Linked DNA regions of Homo sapiens: regions 1 and 2 are each linked to region 3. The links come from fine-mapping of genetic effects on gene expression. A gene starts in region 3. Each other region holds a variant in brackets. All regions are shown on one strand. Distances are between the middles of the regions.

Region 1 (8,185 bases), 90 kb after region 3:
GAATAAAAGCATTGTCTATGCCATAGAATTGAGAAGAGGAATAAATGACAATATATGTAAGTACCTAGCACAATACCTAGTCACAGAGTAAGACCTCAGAAATATTTGTTACTATTACTCTGTAATATATCCTCTCACCACAGTATAACCCATGGAATATGTGACATAACAGAATAAGCCTGGTTAGGAGTCACACATTTGGTTCTTTTGGAGATACACACTGAAATATTTACTGATGAAATGATGTGACGTCTAGATGTGCATCACAAAAATCCAGGGGGAGATCCAAGTGTGTTTGAGAATTGGTTAGGGTATTCATGAAACAAGGTTGTCTATGATAATTGTTGAAACTGGATAATGGGTACAAATAGGGTTCATCTTTACCATTCTCTCTGCTTTTGTATATGTCTGACAGTTTGCATAATAGAAAAATTGTAATAATCAGAGTTGTAAATTCAAATGTTGACAAGGCCAGACAGGTAACATAAAAGAGAGAAGCAAGCAGGGTAGGGACTGTGGCAAACTGGGAAAGAATATGTCTCTTCCAAAGGGGCAGCCAGTATTCAGCTCCAGCTTAGTGTTGCTGGCTGGCAATGTTGGGCCAGGACTGCCAGATTTTTCAGTTTTTCAAGATTGGCCACAAATTATAATGTTGATATGAAACCTTCAGTTCTTTAAATGTTGGTAACTAACTGAAATATGTTTTATTGAAAAGTATGCTGGCCATCTAAATCAGGTCTGCAGAACAGACTCAGGCTGGAGCTGCTAGTTTGTAAACTCTGCCTGAGAAGCCAATTTTAAGCAATTTTCATTCTCTGGAGCAGTAGAATATAATTGACAGCGTTTCTAAAGCCAACAATCCAAGAATGCCATTGTGCTGTCCTGCTGTTCCTTATTGTAAGTCCCGTGCCCATATATGCTTTGCTCTCTGCCTTCCATCCCTACCTGAAGTTTCTCTAACTTTATCTTTCATTCTCTTTACTTGGTTCTGATCTTAAGGTTCAGAGCACTGATGACCAAGACTTCACAAGTGTCCAAGAGAGGAGACCTCACAGTAATGAATTAGGCACCAGCTCACCTGATCTTTCTCTCTGGTACATTTTGCAGCTGTTCTTAACAATATGCAGGTCCTTTGGACAGTTTTCAGAAATATTATGCCTCAAGGGGCAAGGCACCAGGCTGGAAGGGCAGGGCACCCTTGAGAAGAAAAAGGGAATTTTATAAAACTAGTATCAATTTGTGATCAAGTAGAACTTCCTGAAGTTCAGCAGTTCTTTCAATCTCCCTTTTTTTCTTTTTCTTCTCTTATATTGAAGTAAAATTTAAAATTTAATACTTTTTATTTTTTAAAAGCATGTATGGCATCATTTCAGTCTTATTAAATTCTCTCTGCATCCATTCACCCATCCTTCTTTTTGTGTGTGTGTGTAGTGGTCTCTGTGAGAGGGTTCATTAATGTCAATCCTGATCATTTCTTCCTCAAGAGATGTCAGTAGATTTGTTTTTTTTTGCTTTGGACTTTTATGAATTGATTGAATTTTTATGCCAATTATTTTTAAAGTATTACATAGAAGAACAAATGGACAGAAAAATTTAAATGCAATCAAATCTTGTTGATTTTGAAGTATAGGAAATAATCTTTTTTTTATTATACTTTAAGTTTTAGGGTACATGTGCACAATGTGCAGGTTTGTTACATATGTATACGTGTGCCATGTTGGTGTGCTGCACCCATTAACTCGTCATTTAACTTAGGTATACCTCCTAATGCTATCCCTCCCCCCTCCCCCCACCCCACAACAGGCCCCAGTGTGTGATGTTCCCCTTCTGCATTGTCAGGTAAACTGCAGGACACTCACTTGTATTTGAATTTCAAATAAGCAACAAATATTTTTGTATAAAGTATGTCCCAAATATTGCATGAGACACAGTTATCTAAAAATATTTGTTGTTTATCAGTAGTTTGACTCAGCACTCCGTATTTTTATTGCAACTCTCATATAAACATGTCATTTTCATAGGAAATGCTTTAAATACTTTGTCCTTTTTTTCTCATCCATTCATCCCATTTATATTTTTCTTTTAATTTAGGAGATTAAGGAAAACATTAGGTACTTTGATTTGAGCCATCCCTATAATTATACACATGCATATGTTATATACACTCATATATATATTATCTATATACAGATATATGTGACAGTGTGCTCTATATAATACCTGATGTAAACACACACGAAACACAAACTGAACTGACTGTATTGTTGAAACAGCTGCTCAGTGAAATACGTCTTGTGACCTGTGGTCCTTCTGAAACCGACCCAACAGTTCTATAGACCAGTGGTCCCCAGCCTTATCAGCACCAGGGACTGGTTTCGTGGAAGACAATTTTTCCATGGACTTGGTGGGCGGGGCAATGGTTTTGGGATGAAACTGTTCCACCTCAGATCGTCAGGCATTAGTTAGATTCTCATAAGGAGCACGCAACCTAGATCCCTTGCATGTGCAGTTTACAGTAGGGTTCGCGCTCCTATGACAATAAAACGCCACCGCTGATCCAACAGGAGGCAGAGCTCAGGCGGTAGTGCTCGTTCACCTACCACTCACCTCCTGCTGTGCAGCCCATTTACTAACAGGCAACAGACCAGTACTGCTCTGTGGCCCAGGGGTTGGGGAACCCTGCCAAGGACTGTTCATTTTGATAAAAATAGAAATGGACCCTTCTGGTGTTAAAGTTTGAACCTTACATTTGTTTTATCTGAGTTCCTTCCTCAGGAAGCAACCTTCAGGCCTCTCAAAAAAAAGGGATCAAAGAACTGAAACTCACCAGATCACTACATCCAGACAGTGAGATGCTAGACCCCTCTTTCATCTTGATTGCTTCCTTGCCCCTCCCTAGTTCCTGTTTTCTTATACATTGTTAAATTTCTTCCCTGCTATATAAACCCGTAGTTTTAGTGGGTTCGGGGGATGGATTTGAGACTGAGCTTCCATCTCAGCTGCAGCATCCGATTATAGCCTTTTTCCTTGGCAATACTCACTGTCTCTGTGATTGGCTTTCTGTGCAGTGAGCAGCAGGACTTAGACGGTAGCCTTGGTGTTTTGGTAACACTTCCTTCAGTCGTTTCGGAATGAGGCAGAGAAAGGACAAGGTCTCCTGTTTAGCTTAGACTTGAATGTCATGTGGAACTGGAAGGAGACAGGGACCCAGTTGCCCTACTGGCTTTTTTCTTTATCCCCTTATCCCACAGCAGCAGTGAGGTATCTGGGAGTCCTTGGGCTCTGGAGGAAATGTCAAAGTTGTTGGAAAAGCCCCAAGCCCAGCAAATCTGCCCACTCCCTGCAGGACTGCTGCTTTCACTTTCACTCTTGCCCATGGCCTAGGGACTGGAATGGCCTCAGCCATCAGCTGGGTGGCCTCTGCCAAGGCTCTTGAAACCAGTCCTACCGCTCACACTAGTGGTCGTGCTTTCTAGGGTGGCCCTCTGCCCCACATGGCATCCCCTTAGCTTCTGTCTTCTGGTCCGCCAATTATGGCAGCTACCCACACCCCTATGGGTATGACAAGCTGTGGCCTAGCCTCCTCAATAAGGAGAGGGAGGAGAGCCTGTGGCAGAAGTGAGTGAGCTCACCTGCCTGCAGAGTCCCTGACATCTTACTTCTGTCTATTCACATTTCCTCTCTGCCTGCCTTGTGTTTTCACCCTTTCAATCCATCTAGCTGATGGATCCCTTATGCATCCTACCTACTCCCTTACATTCTTACTCTTCATCACGTCCCTTCATAAGTTGCCCTGGTCTCCTTCTTCTCCCTTTCACCTTCTGCTGGAGCACACATGGCCAAACACCTCATACTCACTGGAATTTCCTTGTCTTGTGTTATCATTAAAGAAAATTATATATAATATATATGTTATATATTATATATGTTAATATATTAATATATATTGTATATAATATATATATTATGTAATAAAAATTGTATTTTTTAGTGATGAAGTCTCGCTACCTTGCCCAAGCTGGTCTGGAACTCCTGGCCTCAAGCGATCTTCTCACCTCAGCCTCCCAAGTAGCTGGGATTAGAGAGCATGTTTTTATTCCCCACTACACTGAGCTCCTGGAAGGAAGGACCTCTGTTTTATTCATCCCAGAATTCTAGTGCTGACAAAGATTCTCTTATTGACCGAATTTTACTCAGGTTCCCTTGAGCTCTTTTTCAACTAGGCCTGGAGTTTTGGATTTCTGAGTTTGTCTCTGCATTGTCCGATTTCAGCAAGGAAATTGCTAAGTCCTGCTAAGTCTATTTAGTCATCCCCCATATCCAAGCACTCTCAATATCTAATCTGGTTCCTCATCCTCCACCATCTCCCAGGTGATGTTTGATCGCCCTGGTGCCTTCAGCAAAAATAATGTTAGGTCGGTTTGGCCCAAATCTTCCATTATGCCTGATGTTTCCTCTTAGTTAATTTCCATCCATTGACTCCCACCTTGTTCCTTGGCTCTAAATTCCCACTTGCCCACATTGTATTTTAGCTGATCTCAATCTATCTCCCCCATTGCAAGATGCCATTGCAGTGATTCCTATACTTATCTTGATATTTCCCCCTTGAACACAGTCTTTCTCACCATCTTTAACAAGTGTCATTTAAAAAAATTGAACAGTAATGATGCTGTGACTTTTATAGGATCAGATTCATCATTGGACTCCTGGACCTATCACTG[C/T]GGACCTCAAATGTGCACCTTTTAAGCCCTTTCCTTCACTCCTGACTGATTGATTTGGGATCCACTGCTAAGTCAGACTTTTGAACCATTGTTCCAGGCAAACTTCTGTTAAAGCTGGTAAGGATTGATTTGATTCTTAAGATTCTGAGTATACTCTCTGAAGCAGGTTAGAGTTCCAGGCTTGTTTTGAAAGGTATCTCCTAGGCTGGATGGTTTCCTTCCTGGATCTCTGTCTTGAGTGGGGATTATTCTCTGGCTCCCTGGGCTGAAAGCTTTTCTTTCTGGCTTTCTATTTTGAGTGGGAATTATTCATTGATTCTTTGGGCTGGAAAATTTTTTTTTTGAGACAGGGTCTTCCTTTGTTGCCCAGGCTGGAGCGCAGTGGTGTGATCATGGCTCACTGCAGCCTCAACCTCCCAGGCTCAAGCAATCCTCCCACCTCAGCACCCCTGAGTAGCTGGGAGTACAGGCACACGCCACTGTGCCCGGCTAATTTTAATCTTTTTTTTTTTTTTTTTTTTTGTAGAGACAGAGTCTCACTATGTTGCCCAGGCTGGAAATTTTTTCCTTGTTACTTTGTGAGGCCTCTCTGTTCTATTTGATCCTGTTTTTCCCACAGGAACTTCTGAGTCAACTGAAACACCATTCTTGAATTCCTACTGACTATATGCTCCACCTACACTGTCCAACTCCTTCTTGTTGACATGGTTTTGCTGAGGATAATTTGGAACTTCACTGGTCTTTTTGGGAAACTTATCATCTCCCCAAACTGGTGTCTCTAAGACTTCTCTCTTCCCACTGGTTTCTCTCCTCCTTCCTCCTCTTACTGTAACCAAACGCAGGCTAAGCTGCTCATTGCTTGCAAAATTGAATAACAAGGACGAGGGTGGTAAAAAGAAAGTGACTTTTATTCCAGAGCTTAGCAGTGGGGAAACAGAACAGGCTCCTGCCTTAAGGGAACTGATTTAACTTTCAGGGAAGAAAGCAAGGGCTTAAAAAGGGAAAGTTGGTGTGAAGGGCAAGGAGGTGCGGGGTCTACGTGACTCGCTTGGATGACTTATATTGAGTGATGCCATCTGATGGTCTGGTCTGCACCATCATGGATAGAATTGGATTGTGAATTAATTGTTGTCTTGAGACAATCTCCTGGTGGGGAATTCCAGAGAGTGCCTGTTTTGTTTTGAGATTTGGTCCCTGATACTTCTAAGCAAACATATATTTAGATAAGCTTTCAGTCTAGGTGTTACTGGTGGAGGGTGTCCAGGTTCTTGGCGTTTTGAACAAAGAATTGGACAAAATGCACAAAAAAAGCAAGTAAAGAGTGAAGCAACAAAAGCAGAGATTTACTGAAATCGAAAGTACACTCCACAGGGTGGCAGCAGGCCTGAGCAGCGGCTCAAGGGCCCAGATACAGAATCTTCTTGGGTCCAAATACCCCCTAGAGGTTTCCCATTGGCCACTTGGTGCTTACCTCACGTAAATGAAGTGGTGGCCTGCAATCAGTCTGAATGGTTGCGGAAAGCAACCAATCAGAGGCTGAAGTGAACTTACAAAGGTCACATTCCTATGCAAACATCTGGTGGTTGCAGAAAGCAACCAATCAGAGGCTGAAGTGAACTTACAAAGGTCACATTCCTATGCAAACATCTGGTGGTTGCAGAAAGCAACCAATCAGAGGCTAAAGTGAAGTCAAAAAGTTGTACTTCTATGCAAACGGTGACCTGGCTGGCAATCAATCAGATTGAGCTGAACTAAAGTTATAAAGTTACACTCCTATATAAAGGTCTGATTGGTTGCCAAAATCAGCCAATCAGAGGTACTTTCAATTTCCCATCTGCAGCAAAGGAAAGGTGGGGGTTTGCAAAGGGAGTAGCCTCTGGTCCTTTTGTTACTTAGGTGTGGAAAGTTAGGGCTTTCCTTTCAATTTAGTTCTAGGAAGTTAGTGTGAAACAGCTTTAGGTTCCCTGCCTCCAGACCCTATTCTCCTGCTTCACAGGGAGTGTCTGTTGGAAAGAAGGTAAAGTTTATAATTGTATTCCTAAAGAGTAAAGTAAGAGGTGAGGGAAAAAGAAAAAAAGGTAAAAATAATTCTTTTTAAGAAAATGAGGTACTTGGTTACGACTCCCCACTGTCAAATTCCATTCCATTTTCATGGGATTTGGGCATTGTTTTTATTCTGGCTACTTACTGCTGAAAGTGGGAGGAGTTATAGGGTACCAGAATGGAACTGATCCATTGGAGTTGGAAATATTCACAAGTACTGGGGTTCACAGACAATGTTTGCTGGAGCATTATGGTGCGAGGCCAGGAAAGTCTCTTGGGAAAGCCTGTCTTGCATTTCCATACAGAAGTTGCAACAGCAGTAAAATCCACAGCAAAGAAATATGCCTATCCCTGCAACCAGGGCCAAAGTTATAAGCAGCTTTTGCCACCAGGACGGTCCTGACCTGAACCAGGTTGCTAACCACTGAGCTAGCGACAATGTGGGGTCAGACATAGTTTTGATTTGTTGGTTCATGTCTTGCAGGGCTAACAAGACATTTTCTGAATTATCTGAGATAATATTTAGCATTCAGTCTTAATTACTTAATTATCATGCACAGTCCCCACTATCAATTGTGTCCAGAGTTCTTGTGGGGATATGATGACAGGTGGACTCAATACACAAATTTAACAGTTTTTTTTTAGTTTATATTTCCCACATCTTTTGGTTAAGACATACAGGAGAGGTCATAAATGTTTATGAAGGCAGTCTTGACACATGTGTATGGAACAAATATGTATGTAACATATGACTCATGTTTATTTTTGTGTGGGGACTTAACATATAATGTATTATAATTAGGCCCTAGACATCAAAAGGTCTTTTTAGGACATAAAGGCATGCAAATGTGTACTTTTTGTAAACTAGCCAGAATTAGCCTATGGTCAGTGGTCTTGTTTATAGTTTGGTATCTTATTGTTACAAAGAATCTGTCTTATCAGTCTTATGATCTCCATTTTAATGTTAATGCTTGTCAGTTTTGCCTAAATTCCAGAAAGGGTGGGGATGGTGTAGTGAGGCATGCCTGATGCCCTGCTGTCTGTCATGGCCTGAAACTTTTTCTTTTAGGTTTCTTTGGGATTCCCTTCGGGCAAGAAGGGAGTCCATTTAGTTGGTTGGGGTTTAGGATTTTATTTTTTTTAGTTTATATTCCCCACTGCTTTTGGTTAAGACATACCAGAGGCAGCATTGATGGCTAAACTTTAATTTTGTCCCGTGTTGTTGCCAGGGTGGTGTGTGTCCATTATGTCCCTTGGTAGGACCCCTATGGCCAAGGGACGACCCCTATGGCCAAGGGATTAGAGCCAAAAGATTTATAGGCAATTAAACATTCTAGGCCCGATGGGAATGGAGGTAAGCAGGCACCCATTAACCTTTAAAATCACTTTCAAGTAACATAAGAGCATACATTTTATGCATT
Region 2 (8,185 bases), 64 kb after region 3:
AAATGGAAAAACTGGACCACACTATTGGATACTGAAAGTAATCGTTCACTGAGTTAGGTCCAAGAGCTGAATTGAGTCAGAGAAGTTATGTGATTTGGGGAAATTTCTAGTAAGAAACTTTTCAATGGAAATCTTAATTGCCCGACTTTTGTGGCACCAGAATGTATACTTTCACATAAAAGCCAATTTTGCAATTGTGGTTCATTTGCCAGACTCCTGATTGGTGGGACTTTAGGTCCTCAGAGAACAACCCCACCTCTCCTATTCCCAACTCTCCCACCTCCAAATGGCGCACGATGTTCTTGCCATTTCCGGAGAGCAGCCTGTGTTTCTTGAATGGGAAGTGAGGGGAGGCCAGAGCACACCAATGACAGGGGAGGGAGGCAGGGAAATGCTGGGAGGAGAAGGCGGGGTCCCTAGCAAGGGCTCCACCCCGGTCCTGTGCCCATGGACCAAAGTGAGGACAGGCATTTCTGTTTTCATGCCCAAATGTTGCATTTCCCAAGACCACCCTGGCCCACCACGCCCCCATCCTGTGCCTATAAAAACCCCGAGACCATATTGGCAGAGACACAAGTGGCCATGGGCAGACAGAAGTGGCTGGCCCTCGAGAGGAACACACTGGTGGAAGAGCACACCGGCAGACACCAGCAGACACCAGCAGATGCCAGCAGGCCGACCAGCTGAACAACACTGACTTTGGCTGTGGTGGTCAGAGGAGAGCCTGGCCGCTGGGTGGCCTGACTCCAGGGGAAAATCACCTTCCCACTCCATCCCCCTTCTGGCCTCTCCATCCACCTCGCTGAGAGCTACCACCACTCAATAAAAAACCTTGCACCCATCCTCCAAGCCCACATGTGATCTGATTTTTCTGGTACACCAAGGCAAGAACCTGCGATACAGAAAGCCCTCTGCCCTTGCGATAAGGCAGGGGGTCTAATTGAGTTGATAAACACAAGCTGCCTACAGATGGCTAAACTGAAAGAGCACACGGTAACACATGCCTACCCTAGACACTGCAGTGGGATTGGAGTCACATGTCACTATACTGATCTCTTCTTTGCAATAATTAAGTTGTTTTTCTGTTACAGCTTTTTTTTTTTTCCTTTTTTTTTTTTTTTTTTAAGATGGAGTCTCACTCTGTCACCCAGGCTGGAGTGTAGTGGTGTGATCTTGGCTCACTGCAACCTCTACCTCCCGGGTTCTAGTGATTCTCGTGCCTCAGACTCCCCAGTAGCTGGGATTACAGGCATATATTTAGTGGAGACAGGGTTTCACCATGTTGGCCAGGCTAGTCTCCAACTCCTGATCTCAGGTGATCTGCACACCTCAGCCTCCCAAAGTGCTGGGATTACAGGTGTGAGCTACTGCACTTGGCCTATGTTATAGCTTCAGGGACATCCAGCTTCCATTCATTACCGGTCTTCCCAATCTGTGACCCTGCAGCATGGACTAGCACATGACTGCCACTTAGAGCACCCATGCAGGACTCCGGAGGGGAGCCAATAGGGAGTAGGGGTTGTGCAGGAATGTATTATGGTCTGTGTTCATTCGACTCTACATGAAGGCCCTTCCCAATTATATCAATAACTTTTTAAGAGATTTCAACACTAAAAAAAGCTTTTAATCACTAATGTGTTTTTGGAAGGACCTGAATTATGTACTTTTAAAATTAATTTTTCTCGTGAATAAACTAGTTATTATTTTTAGTTAATACAGATTTGTACGGATTTGATACCCAACTGAGGAACTGGCTTTGTGGGTCCCACTAACAACTGGCTTGACAAGCTTTATGATGATGAATTGTTCCTATTTTTATAGGAAGGAGTTTGATATTAGGCCACTGTGCATATGGAAAATTTCCCAAACTCCTGGATTAGTCAATTGGAATTTTAAATTGGAAAATGCTCTCATAAATAGACGATTGTTTCTTGTTTTATCTCACTGGGAACAACTTGACAGTTGTGTCTTCTAACAGGTAGAAACGTGGTTGCAGCTTGTGGGGGTGGGGGTATTCTGATGACCAAAAAGCACAGGGTGAAATGGAGTGATGTGACCATTCCAGGGTGCTTTCTAGCTAAAGATCCTGTGTGTGTGCATGCATGCCTACATGCACGTGTGTCTGCAAAAGAGAGAAGGAACAGCCAAAAATATAAGCTCATGGTTTGGAAGGAGAATTCAAGTGCTCTGCTGACCACCAAGTTCCTAGGGAAACAGGTTGTGAGAGGGATTGAGAACAAGGAAGCCTCAGAATTTGGTCAACAACCCAGATCTCTCAGCACAGCCAATGGCTCATTGTGCCATATTTTAAATGCAATTGAACTGTCAATTCACATCCATGCATGAAAGACAAGAAGCATTATTATTCCTGTATTATCATACAGGAAGCATTATTAAATATAAAATGGTGTTTGGCTTTCTTTGGTCTAAAAACTAATAAAAGTAGGTGCTAAAGGAAATTTTTCAGTAGAAAGGCACCAAGGACTGCTGATGATCCCACATTTAAAACAAAAGGTCAATTTCTTAAAAATTGCATACTTGGTTTATCTTCCACTTTCCTTTCCCTTAAAACTAAAAGTCTTTTAGCACATGTACCACCCCTAGAATTTCTGGTAAACCAGCACTAGCCTGAGGATCATGTTCTCATCAAAGGGTAAAAAGAAGGGAAACTCGAGCCAGCCTAGGAAGGACCCTTCCTTGTGCTGCTAACCACCAAGACTGCTGTTCTTACAGCAGAAAAGGGATGGACTCATCATACCCGAGTCAAAGCACCACCCCCTCCAGAGTCATGGGCCATAGTCCCAGGGGAAAACCCTACCAAACTCAAGCTAAGAAAAATTTAATTCTTTCATCTATTCTATTACTTTCTTCTTTCCTCGCTCTATTACTGACCATGTAGTTATTAACATAACCAAGTCAATTTCGCCTCAAACTATTGCATTTAATGCTTGCTTTGTTATACCCTGCAGGGACTTGCTAAGCCAAAAACAGCTCTCTACTTCAAAAAAGTACCTCTGTCCCTCCTGACTCTCCTCAGACTGGGCATTAGTAAATTAGGACCATCTAATCCAGGGAGATTTCAATAAAGACCCCAGTGTCAACCAGGAGTCTTGCCCCCCGATGTGGAGCTTTTATGCCGTAGTTGGTCCAAAGTTCTGTGGACCACTAAAAAGCAAGAATGAACTACCCCAACCAGTTTTTGTAATTTCCTAAAACCATACATTCATTTTACTAAAGAATCATAGAAGTTAAAGACTTAAAACAAACTTTGGCAATTAAGGCAGTATACCAAGATGCAAATGCCTGGTTGGAATGGATCAAATATTCTTTCCGCACATTAAACAAAAGCAATCGTTATGCTTGTGCACATGGCAGGCCAGAGGCCCAGATTGTCCCCTTTTCACTAAGGTAGTCATCCAGTTGACCAGGTGTGGGCTGCATGATAGCTCTTTTTCAGGATTCTACAGCCTGGAGTAATAAGTCGTGCCAAGCTCTCTCCGCTATGTCCTGAAGTCTGGCACCCTGCGAGTCAGCCCCTGAGGGCCATCCAGCTTCCATCTCCCAACACTAAGTTCACTTCATGTCTCTCACAACAGGGAGAAAACTTAGCATTCCTTGGAGACCTGAAGGGATGCAGTGAGCTTAAGAATTTTCAAGAGCTTATCAATCAGTCAGCCCTTGTTCATCCCCGAGCGGATGTGTGTGGTATTGTGGTGGACCTTTACTGGGCACTCTGCCGAATAACTGGAGTGGCATTTGTGCTTTAGTCCAATTGGCTATCCCTTTCACCCTGGCATTTCATCAACCAGAGGGAGGAAAAATAAGACATCATAAAGCGAGAGAAGCCTCTTATGGGTCTTTCGACTCTCATGTCTATTTAGATGCAATTGGAGTCCCACGGGAAATACCAGATCAATTTAAAGCCCAAAATAAAATAGCTGCAGGATTTAAGTCAATATTTTGGTAGGTGACAGTTAATAAAAATGTAAAGTAAATAAACTACACCTATTACAACCAACAGCAACTAGCTTTTCAGGAGTTAAAAGAAAAACCTCATGTTGGCTGCAGCCCTGGGGCTACCTGACCTGACCAAA[C/A]CTTTTACACTGAATGGCAGTTAGAGATTTAACCCAGACTGTGGGGCCCTGGCTGAGGCCAGTGGCCTACCTCTCTAAATAACTAGATGGGGTTTCTAAGGGTTGGCCCCCATGTTTGAGGGCCTTGGCAGGAACAGCCCTACTAGCACAAGAAGTGGATAAGCTAACTCTTGGGCAAAACCTAAACATAAAGGCCCCCCATGCTGTGGTGACTTTAATAAATACCAAAGGACGTCATTAGCTAACAAATACTAGACTAACTAGATACCAAAGCTTGCTCTGTGAAAAATCCCCACATAACCATTGAAGTTTGCAACACCCTAAACCCCGCCACCTTGCTCCTGGTATCAGAGAGCCCAGTTAAACTTAACTGTGTAGAGGTGTTGGACTCAGTTTATTCTAGCAGGCCCAACCTCCAAGACCATCCTTAAACATCAGTAGACTGGGAGCTGTACGTGCATGGGAGCAGCTTCGCCAACCCCTGCAAAGTGACTCTGAAGAAGATGACAAGCCCTGCCCCAGTCACACCTGGAAGCTGACTGGTCCTTGCATGGTCAAAGCATGAGGAAACTCATCGCAGGACTCATTTCCCTTAAAATTTGGACTTGTACAGTAAGAACTTCAACTGACCTTCCTCAGACTGAGGACTGTTCCCAGTATATACATCAAGTCACTGAGGTAGGACAAAAGATTGCTACAGTCCTATTATTTTATGGTTATTATAAGTGTACTGGGACTCTAAAAGGAACTTGTTTGTATAATGCTATTCTATACAAGGTATGTAGACCAGGAAGTGACCAGCCTGATGTGTGCTATAACCCATCCTTTTTCCTACTGCCCATAAAAACAGGCGAACTTCTAGGCTTCCCAGTCTATGCTTCCCAAGAAAAGAGAAGCATAGCTATAGGCGACTGGAAAGATGACAAGTGGCCCCCTGAAAGAATCATACAGTACTATGGGCCTACCACTTAGGCACAAGATGGCTCATGGGGATACCCAACCCCCATTTATACTATCAACCGAATCATACGGTTATAAGCTGTCTGAGAAGTAATCACTAATAAAACTGGCAGAGCTTTAACTGTTTTAGCCCAGCAAAAACCCAGATGAGAAATGCTATCTATCAAAATAGACTAGTCCTAGACTACTTGCTAGCAGCTGAAGGAGGAGTCTGTGGAAAATTTTACCTAACCAATTGCTGTTTGCACATAAATGATCAAGGGCAAGTAGTTGAAGACAAAAAGATATGACAAAACTGGCACATGTGCCCATGCAAGTATGGCATGGACTTAATCCTGGAGCCATGTTTGGAAAATGGTTTCTAGGGCTAAGAGCATTTAAAACTCTTATAATAAAAATTATAATAGCAATAAGAACCTGCTTACTACTCCCTTGTTTGCTACCTGTACTCCTACAAGTAATAAAAAGCTTCACCGCTACCTTAGTTCACCAAAATGCTTCAGCACAGGTGTACTATATAAATCACTATTGATCTGTCTTGCAAGAAGACATGGGTAGTGAGGATGAAAGTGAGAACTCCCACTAATGAGTGAGGTTCTCAAAGGGGGGAATAAGGGAGGAGACCACCCCTCATATTGTCATATGCCCAATTTCTGCCTCAAAGAAAAAGTAGGAGTTAAAAGACAGAAGTGAAATCAGTAGTCAGACAGCCCAGCACTGCATTCCAGGCCTGGTAGTTAAAGATCGACCCCTGACCTAATTGGTTATGTTGTCTATAGATTCCAGACATTGTATGGAAAAACATTGTGAAAATCCCTGTCCTGTTCTGTTCTGTTCTGATTACTGGTGCATGCAGCCCCCAGTCACATATCCCCTGCTTGCTCAATCGAACACGACCCTCTCATGTGGACCCCCTTAGAGTTGTAAGCCCTTAAAAGGGACAGGAATTGCTCACTCAGGGAGTTCGGTTTTTGAGACATGAGTCTGCCGACACTGCTGGCCAAATAAAGCTCCTTCCGTCTTTAACCTGGTGCCTGAGGAGTTTTGTCTGTGGATCGTCCTGCTACATTTCATGTCATTAGGACCTTCTGAGACTGTGTCATGGGTGCATCCTTAACTTTGGTAAAATAAACTTTCTAAATTGATTGGAACCTGTCTCAGATACTTTTGGTTCACAAGTTGGTAACCAGGAATGGCTTCTGAGTGGAGGTTCCCCTAACCTTTGACAAATCTCCTATTGGTGCTTGGTACCAGTTTGAGCTATCTTTATTGTTCAAACCAATAGGACAATTTGTGAAGTCCTGGGAGCTCCCCCTTCAGAGAATCCATGATCTCCTCAAATTTGGCTGAGATCTAAGGTTTATTTTGTTGTACAACTCCTTTTCTGGAGTTTTACACAAGGAAGGTGAATTGTCCTGCTTCATGTTGATGGAGAGCAGGCAACTCCTTTTTGGAGTGTGAGCTCACTTCCAACAGGGAAGGTGAGTTGAAGTTGTTTCCTGCTTCTAGGATGGTAGAGAGCCATCTTCAGACTGGGCTCCATTCCTAGGTAAGTAACTGAATTGGGATTTTGTCTTGGAAATTCTCCTTAATGACTAAAGTTAAAATTAACAACCAGCTGCTCTTAATTTCTACTTACCTTTAGAGTGCTCAGTAATTGTATAAGTTGTGCAATTTTTTGTTTGTTTTGCTTAACTATTTTTGTTTGTTTCTATTTTTGTTCTTCTTTTGGTCTTTTTTCCATTGGATTTGATAAACTCTATCAGACTTAGTCAAATCTGAAGGAAATTTCCAAATTATGGGGAACAATGCCACTGAATTAGCTAAATTCCCACAGCTGGGGAAAAAAAGGAAAAAGAAAAAATGACCAGCAAAGGGGAAAAAGAGGAAAGATTTTAACTACTGAGGGGTTTTACTTACATAACAAGGCCACTTTTTGCTAGCCAAGCCAAACTGAAAGAGCAACAGCTGTTGTCCCATGGTGCAGTTCAGTAGCTATGGTTCTGCCCTTTTTTCCCACCACAACACCCTGGGTTTGGTTCCTAAATCAAGTCCTTTCAGGTTTCATATTTATGTTACTGTTGAAGTATGAGCAATTTGTCTCAGTTAAAATATGGCAATGAGATTTAAAAGGATTTTTCTTTGAGATGGAGTCTTGCTCTGTTGCCCAGGCTGGAGTACAGTGGCACATTCTCGGCTTACTGCAACCTGCCTGCTGGGTTCATGCAATTCTCCTGCCTTAGCCTCCTGAGTAGCTGGGATTACAGGCATGTGCCACCACACCAGGCTAATTTTTGTATTTTTAGTAGAGACAGGGTTTCACCATGTTGGCCAGGCTGGTCTCAAACTCCTGACCTCAAGTGACCCACCCACCTTGGCCTCCCAGTGCTGGGATTACAGGTGTGAGGCACCACACCCGGCTTAAAAGGATTTTTTTTTTTGGAAGAGCTCAATGGCTATGAATCTGCTTAATTAAAAAGCTAATATTGAAGATTTTGGGTGTGTGTGTGTGTGTGTGTGTGTGTGTGTGTATGTGTGTGTGTGTGTCCACTTAAAAGGCCTTTATGGTTTTTTTTCCTAGAACTTCATTTTTTTTGTAGAAAAAGTTTTGTTTTTCTCAGTTGACTGAATTCTGTTTTCTCCATTTTTCTTCCTGTCTCTCCTTCCTTTTGCCCCTCTCTGCTGCATGAGGGACCTAAAATGGTTTTTAACAGCCTGAGATTCCTTAAAGAAAACAGAGAAGGTGCCAGACTCCATTTTGGGGAGAAACCTCTGTTTTTCCGTATGGAACCTTAAGAGTATAAACAGACAAGTTCTTCTCAAATCTTAAATAGCTTGCTTTTGTATTGTTACCTGATTTTGTTTTGACTAAAGTAGTTATTACAACAGTGGCTATTCTTGGGTGTTTAAAATCAGAAAGAGTATAGTTTAGACACTAAGAGAAATGTCTTCACAAAGAAAGTGCATTATAAAAGCATCACATGTTCTAGGCTCATGAAAATTTCTCTTTTGGAGATTCAGAATTCAGTGTGGGCTCTGCCTCAGACCTCAGAGATCCAGTTAAATAGTAAGAGACTAAATTTAAAACTACCTATATTGATAAAATTGGTCCCCTTATACAATCCTATGAT
Region 3 (8,185 bases):
TTTATGTCCTTAGATGAATTTCACAGCTGAATAGTGAGGGACTGCAAAATAACCGGTGAAAATGAGAGTTGGTCAGAATCAGCATTAGGGTCTGAATTTTTCACCTTTCTTTATGGTATATGCTATGGAAAATATCAATTAACTTGTAACTTGAGCTTTACCTTTTTACTCTATTGCTAGGAGTGAATCATATTACAACTATTTGAAGCTAGAAGACTGTAGTGGTGCTGTGTATCTTGGATTTCTCTTGATTTTTTGCAAGTGCAGTTAGCCAGAAGGTTTTTTTATTTTTTATTTTATTTTATTTTATTTTATTTTATAGCAGTTCTGACTGATGTGGTCCAGCTACCCTCAGAGCCACTGACCTTGGGCCAATATGTTGCCTACTCTTAAGTATTTTGAAATACTGCATGGAAAAAAATGTCATTTATTTGGTTGTATTACTATATTTAATTAGTTGAATAGATATGGTTAGTTTAATTTGTTAACTTGGCTAGGTGATGGTACCCAGTTATTCAAACACTAATCTAGATGCTGCTGTGAGGGTATTATATAGATGTGGTTAACATCTATAATCAGTTGCTTTAAGTAAAGGAGACTGTCTTGGATAATCTTGGTGGGCCTCATCCAATCAGTTGAAATGCCTTAAGAGCAAAACTGATATGCCCAGAGGAAGAAGAAATTCTGCCTGCTGACTGCAGCCTCAGTTTCCACCTGAGAGTTTCTAGGCTTCCCAAGTTCCCTACAGATTTTGGACTTACCTAGCTGGACCCCACAATCATCTAAGGCAATTCCTTGAAACAAATCAAATACATATATACCCTGTTGGTTTTTTTTTTTTTTTTTTTCTGAAAGAACCCTGACTAATACAGATTTTGAAACTAGAAGTGGGATGTTGCTGTACTAAAGACCTAAAATGTGGAATTGGCTTTGGAATTAGGCCATGGATAGAGACTAGAAAAATTTTTGAGAAGCGTGATAGAAAAAAACCTAAATTGCCCTGAAGAGACTGTTGTTAGAAATAGGAATATTAAAGTTGATTGTATAGAGGTCTTGGAAAGAAATGAAGAAAATGTTACTGAAAATGGGAGGAAAGGCAATGCTTGTTATACAGTGACAGAAAACTTGGCTGAACTATGTTCTTCAGTCACATGGAAAGCAGAACTTGAAAGTGATGAACTTGGATATTTGGCAGAAATTTACAGGCAAAATCCTTAAGATTTTTCTTTGTGAACCCCAAGATCTTTACCCTAAAATGGTTCTGTTGAATTTTACCCTGACAATGTAAATTGATAGCTTATCTTCATAACCTGGTTTCTCCTTGCTGCTTATAGTAAAATGTAATATTGATACAGACAGGAGACAGGGAAATACTGGGTAGAAGAGGGTGGTTTCCCAGCAAAGGCCCCACCCTCAAGTCTGGAAACCCGTGGCCCTAAATGGGAACAAGCGTTCCTGTTTTTGTGCCCAAATGCTGCCTTTTGGCCTGCCACGCCCCTGTATCCTGTACCTGTATAAACTCCAAACCCCAGGATCCACAAGCAGATGAGCAGACAAGCAGAAGAGCAGAGGAACAGAAGAGTGGTGTGGCAGAGAAGGAGAGAAGAGAAGGAGCTTCTGAACATCAAGAGGAGTTAGGCTGGGGACGGTAGGAGAGGAGATCAGCCAAGGGACGACTGAACTCCAGGGGAAGATTATCTTCCCACTCCATTCCCTTTCCAGCTCCCCATCCATCCTGCAGAGAGCCACCTCCATCCAGCAATAAAATACGCCACATTTACCATCCTTCAATTTGTCTGTGTGACCTGATTCTTCCTGGATGCTGGACAGGAACCCAGTACCAAGAGGGCACTGAGCTGTTTAACACTTAAGCTGTCCCTGGATGGCAGGGCTAAAGGAGCATTGTAACATCCCTGGATATTGCTGTAGGCCCAGAGCCCAAAAGTGCTTGCCCTAGCTCAAATGCGTGCTCCCCCTCCCATAAGGGGTTTGAGCATGCAGTGGCCAAACAGACGAGCCACACCCCTGTTGCAGGCCCTGCAAGGGGGGTCAGTGAACTCTCCCATTTCAATGTGAAAGATATAAATTGAGGAAAGAACTATTAGGCAAAAAGTAACTAGCACTTGATTTTGGAGGTTCTCAGCCTATCGTGATTCCAAAGGATGCCAAAATTAGAAAATTTATTGTCGCAAAAGCATACTCTGAAGAGAAGGCCAACAGTATGGCTGGACAATCTTGCTAAAGAGATTATATATGTGATTCATGGATCCAATCAACCATATCAGCTGAAGGCAGGAATAGAGATGGGTTTATCCAGGAAGGATCTTGTCTAATGACATGGACTCCCATAACACACACGAGACTGATAAGGATTTTGAGAATGTTATATCAACAGAAATACTGGCATCTTGGAGTAAAGGAGATAGATATGGGATGAAATGAAGGAAGACTGTTGGACTTCTGGAAATCTATAGGCAGGATATGAGCTGACAGGGCTACTAGACTGCAAAGACACATTAGCCTTCAAGAAAAAGGAAGAGTGAATTATGAGGGTGGCACAGAAGCTGGTGGATCACTGCAAGACCAGATGGCAGAACATTGAGCTAAAGAGGATTGTTCCTAGGCCTTGAAATCTAATGGAATTAGCTATGCTAATTATTTATTTATTTACTTTTTTGAGATGAAATCTCATTCTGTCACGCAGGCTGGAGTGCAGTGGTACAATCTCAGCTCACTGCAACCTCCACCTGCCAGGTTCAAGCAATTCTCCTGCCTCAGCTTCCTGAGTAGCTGGGATGACAGGAACTCACCACAATGCCCCTCTAATTTTTGTATTTTAGTAGAGACGAGGAGGGGGGTTTCACCATGTTACCCAGGCTGGTCTCGAACTCCTGACCTCAAGTGATCCACTCACCTCAGCATCACAAAGTGCTGGGATTATAGGCGTGAGCCACCACACCTGGCCCTGCCATGCTAAATTTTGAACTTACTTGGGACAAGAAACCACTTTATGCCTCCCATATTCATTCTTTTGGAATGGTAATGTCTTGTAAAAGGAAAATAAATCTCAGGACTCCAAAATCATTAAGCCAAAGGGAAAAGTCAAGCTGGGAACTGCATCAGGCAAACCTACCTCCCATTTTATTCTTAAATAAGATAGCTACAAACAAAAAAAAAAGCTACATACATGTCTCACAATTTGTCCACTGGGACATTCCTTTTGAGCCCCAAGATGTTTACCTTAAAATGGTTCTGTTGAATTTTACCCTGACAATGTAAATTGATAGCTTATCTTCACAGGTTCTAGACAAAGAACAGAACTCAAAGTCATCCTTCTGTTCATCTGAGACAGATGCATATCTGATTGCTTTCCTAATGTAAAAATGCAGATTCACTGAGCTGACAAAGGCATAAGTAACTATTCCTCTACCCTTCTCTCACATGTAAACTGTGTATTCAGTGAAAGGTTTATCAAACACTCAAAATAATGCAACCATTTGTCTGTTATCTACCCACACCTTTAATTTTTTTTCCTTTTCCCCCAATATCTGCCCTTTTGCCTTTAAATACTGAAGTCCACAAAATCTTCTTTGGAAAAAGGCATAGACCTGCCTTCCAGATGCATGTTCTTAACCTTGGTAAAATAAAATTTCCAAGTTAATTGAGACCTAGCTCAGATACTTTTTGGTTTACAAATTGGTAACCACCAAGGGATTCTGAGTGGAGGTGCCCCTGACCTTTGACAAATCTTCTATTACTGCTTGGTACCAGCTTGAGATATCTTTATTGCTCAAATCAATAGGCAGATTTGCTGAGGCCTGGGAACTTCCCCCCTCCAGACAATCCCTTGTAGCAGGACGAGCTGCAGACAAAATCTTTCAGACACTGAGTTGTAGAAGGAAGGGCTTTATTCAGCTGGGAGCATCGGCAAGCTACTGTCTTAAAATCCGAGCTCCTCGAGTGCACAGTTTCTGTCCTTTTTAAGGGCTCATAACACTAAAGATTTCACATGAAAGGGTCGTGATTGATTGAGCAATCTAGGGGGTATGTGACAGGGGCTTCATGCACCGGTAGTCAGAGTGAAACAGAACAGAGCAGGGAGTTTCACAGCGTTCTTCCATACAATGTCTGGAATCTATGGATAACATCGGTTGCTAAGTCATGAGTTGATTTTTAACTACTAGGTTTAGGCCAGGCAGGCCCAGGCCTGGTTTCAGTTCTGGTTTTGGGTCTGGTGCCTGGCTGCCTGCCCTTGGTTTCACTTCCTTGTTTTTTTCTTAAAACAGGTACTGAGTATAAAACAATATAAAACAATATGAGAGGGTCCGTCTCTTCCCTCACCCTGATCTCCCCAAATTTGGTCGATATCTAAGGTTTTTTTTTGCTGTACAACTCCTTTTCTGGAGTTTTACTCACTTTCAACAAGGAAGGTGAGTTTTCCTGCTTCCATGATGATGGAGGGCAGGCAACTCCTTTCTGGAGTTTCAGCTCAATTCCAACAGGGAAGGCGAGTTGGAGTTTTTTTCCTGCTTATAGGCTGGTAGAGAGCAGTGTTGAGCCTGGACTCCATTCCTAGGTAAGTAGCTGAATTGGGGTTTTATCTTGAAAATTCTCCTTAATGACCTAAAGTTAAGATTAACAACCAGCAGCTCTTAATTTCTCCTTACCATTAGAGTGCTCAGGAATTGTATACATAGTATGATCATTTGTTTGTTTTGCCAAACTGTTTTTTCATTTATTTGTTTGTTTTGTTGTTTTGGTCTTTTTCCCATTGGATTTGACTAACTCTACCCAACTATATCAAATGTGAAGGAAAGTTACAAATGGTGAGGAACAACGCCTCTGCATTGGGTAAATTCCTGCAGCTGGGGGGGAAAAGGGAAAAGGATAAACAGCCATCAACAGGAAAAAAGAAAGATTTTGACTACCTGAGGGGCTTTATTTACATAACAAGGCCACCTTTTGCTAGCCAAGCCAAACTGTGCTCCACACTGCAGTTCTGTAGCTAAGGTTTTGCCCTTTTTTCCACCACAACAGCCTGGGTTTGGTTCCTAAATCAAGTTCTTTCTGGTTTGATATTTGTGTTATTTTTGAAATATCAGCAATTTGTTCCAGCTAAAATAGGGTAGTGAGATTTAGAAGAATTTTTTAAGAGCTTAGTGGCTAAAAGTCAGTTTAATTAAAAGCTAATATCCACGATGTGTGTGTGTGTGTGTATATTTAAAAGGCCTTTATGGTTTTTTGTTTTGTTTTGTTTGTTTGAGAAGGAGTTTCACTCTTGTTGCCCAGGCTGGAGTGCAATGGTGCGATCTTGGCTCACTGCAACCTCTACCTCCCGGGTTCAAGCAATTCTCCTGCCTCGGCCTCCCAAATAGCTGGGATTACAGGCATACGACACCACACCCAGTTAATTTTGTATTTTTAGTAGAGATGGGATTTCTCCATGTTGGTCAGGCTGGTCTCAAACTCCCGACAACCTCAGGTAATCTGCCTTCCTCAGCCTCCCAAAATGCTGGGATTACAGGCGTAAGCCACCGTGCCTGGCCTGTTTTTTTTTTCTCTCCTAGTACCTTGTTTTTTGAGAAAAAGGTTTTTTCCTTCTCAGTCAGTCAAATGAATTCTGTTTTCTCCATTTACTTCTGCCTATCTCTCCTTTCTCTTGTTCCCCTCTGCTGCATGAGGGACCCAAAATAGTTTCTAACAGCCTGTAATTCCTTAAATAAAACAGAGAAGGCACTAGAGTCCTTTTTGAGGAGAAACATCTGTTTTTCCTTATGGAACCCCAAGAGTCTAAACAGACAAGTTCCTCTCAGATCTTAAACTGCTTGCTTTTGTACTGTGTTACCTGATTTTTGGACTAAGTTATTACAACAGAGGCTACTCTTCGGGTGTTTAAGATAAGAAAAGGTATACTTTAGACACTTAGAGGAAAGTCTTTGTAACAAAGTGCAGTGCAAATGCATCACATGGTCTAGAATCATGATAATTCTATCTTTTGGAGATCCAGGATTCAGCGTGGGCTCTGCCCAGAGCTGAGATCCAGTTAAAAGCTAGAGACTAGGCTGGGCACAGTGGCTCATGCCTGTAATCCCAGCACTTTGGGAGGCCAAGGTGGGCAGATCACGAGGTCAGGAGTTCAAGACCAACCTGGCCAACATGGTAAAACCCCATCTCTACTAAAAATACAAAAATTAGCGGGGCATGGTGGCAAGTGCCTGTAATCCCAGACACTTGGGAGGCTGAGGGCATGCCCAGCCGATGCTACACTTTTAAACAGCCAGATGTCATGATTACTCACTATCATTAGAACAAAACTAGAGGGGAAATCTGCCCCTATGATCTAATCGCCTCTCACCAGGCCCCATCTCCAACACTGGGGACTACAATTTGATATGCCTTTGCAATATCAATTGCTGCATACCAAGTTCTCTCTGTTTTGGGCCTCTGTAATAGTCACAATGTCAGGTACTGCTGGTGCCAAAGGTGGTATTACGCATTGAGCTGCCTAAAATCAGTGGTAAGTCTCCAAGAAACCAAGGTCTTGTGCACAGGCCAGATGGGGCTATTGAATGGAGAAACAGTCTCATGAAACATTTTGGCTTCCTTAAGCTCAGCAATGATGGCAATTATTCTTTTTCTCCCCTAGGCAGCTGACATTGTTTTTTGGGAAACAACAGTACTAGGTGTTGGTCATCAGATGGGTCCATGGTCTTCTATATTTCTCACTAAGATGGCCATAACTATTGCAATTCCTGTCAGGGCTTGGAGGCAAAGGCAAGTGGGGCTGCACATGGAAAACACATCACTGCCAATATTTCATTCAGTAGTGGGGGCCATGACAACGGAGGTTAGTAGGAGCCCAAAGTCAGAGAACACGATCTGTTTTCTCCTCATCTTGATGCAAGGGTTTGTGGGGATCACAGTCACCTGTGTACTGGTATCTAAAAGGCCTAAGAAGTGCAATTCCTCTCCACTGTTCAGTTGAACTCTAACCTTGGCATAGGGCCTCTGGGTCCCCTGAGTACAGAAGGATCTTGTTTATAACCCCTAAAATCTTTGGATTTTTGTTTGTAACCCCTAATCTTGTTTATATTTGAAAGCTGAGTGTCAGAGCAAAAGTTGCTCAGGATCTCTGATTTGTCTCCAAATCCACCAGGAGAGGTGGAAGGCCATCACTGTGCAGACTCTAGCGGGACCACTTATCAAATCCCCATGGCCTGGTACTTGGCCCTGAATTTTTTAGTGGGGAGCCCATCAATCTGCTTTCGTGGTTCCATTATTGAGTAATCAGACTCAGAGATCTCTTTGGGAAGGCCCTTGCCCAGACAGTCCAGAAGAGGGCACTCAAGTACTATTTTTATGCTCCCTTTTTGGAGGGGAGGGGTCAAATTTTGCTATTTTATCGGAAGCCATTTCTTCTGTGCCTGAGAATTTCTGAGTTAAGATCTGGATCACACTGCAGATTGATGGACTTGACCTCAGGAGGTGGCTTAATTGGGCTTGACAACAAGCAGGAGCAGCATGAACAAACCCGTAAATCTAAGTCTGGTTAATCTTCTCATCTACCGTTCCCACTCCCTCGTAGTAGACCCAAGAGACCACCAGGAGGGCTGCAGGACCTCCATAGTCTCTGCGAAGGTGGTTGAGACATGTTTTTCAGTGACTAGGTACTCATTATGTGTGGACCAAATCTGTCAGAGACCAAATAGTACCCAGCTGAGGAAAGAGATGGTCGTTGGTATACATACACTCTCATCTCCCCACCTTGCTCCTCCTCCTCAGAGAAAGTGGCCACTATCAAGGCACTATGGAGGAGGGGGTCTGTAGTGATGTACCCCTCAAGGAGCCACTTTCCTTTATGAAGTTTATTTAACAAGATTACCTTTTTCGTAATGGAAGCAAACTAGCCAAGTCTCTGTGGTTTCTTCCCCTAAGCAAGTCTTCCTTCTGGCTTGGCTGCTGGGCATTGACCCTATCTAGTGAGATCACTGGACAAAGTGATTCTAAAGAGCTCTACATTATTTTTATTAGAAGCATGAGTCTCAGTAACATGCTGCATGGCATGTTGTCCGTCAGCCCCAGGGAACTGCTTAGATCTAGGAATAGTTTTGGGGTACAGGTCAGTTTACAGGGTCTCCAACGACTTCTGGCCCCATCATCAGAGAACGGTGTCCAGGGAATTGTT

Which allele goes with the higher level. Positions count from the first base shown, and alleles are read on the strand shown. Sizes are in standard deviations (SD) of each study's normalised expression. Not every link is listed here.
With allele T in place of C in region 1, the expression in pancreas of the gene that starts at base 4,280 in region 3 is lower (large effect, 0.94 SD a copy in GTEx).

What was found. PIP is the estimated chance that this variant, and not a neighbour inherited with it, causes the effect.
Region 1: its variant is fine-mapped to the expression of RHOXF1-AS1 in pancreas (GTEx, PIP 0.95).
Region 2: its variant is fine-mapped to the expression of RHOXF1-AS1 in whole blood (TOPMed, PIP above 0.99).

What each region holds. Positions count from the first base shown.
Region 1 is chrX:120,122,261-120,130,445 of GRCh38, forward strand. The region is part of intron 2 of RHOXF1-AS1 (RHOXF1 antisense RNA 1); the gene reads left to right. Among named protein-coding and RNA genes, the nearest start is that of LINC01402, 6.7 kb to the left of the region's middle. The variant C/T (reference allele first, on the strand shown) is at 4,722.
Region 2 is chrX:120,095,569-120,103,753 of GRCh38, forward strand. All of the region lies in intron 1 of RHOXF1-AS1 (RHOXF1 antisense RNA 1), which reads left to right. Among named protein-coding and RNA genes, the nearest start is that of RHOXF1, 16 kb to the right of the region's middle. The variant C/A (reference allele first, on the strand shown) is at 4,095.
Region 3 is chrX:120,031,957-120,040,141 of GRCh38, forward strand. RHOXF1-AS1 (RHOXF1 antisense RNA 1) reads left to right here and starts at 4,280. Exons shown (of 5, transcript NR_131238.1): 1 at 4,280-4,576.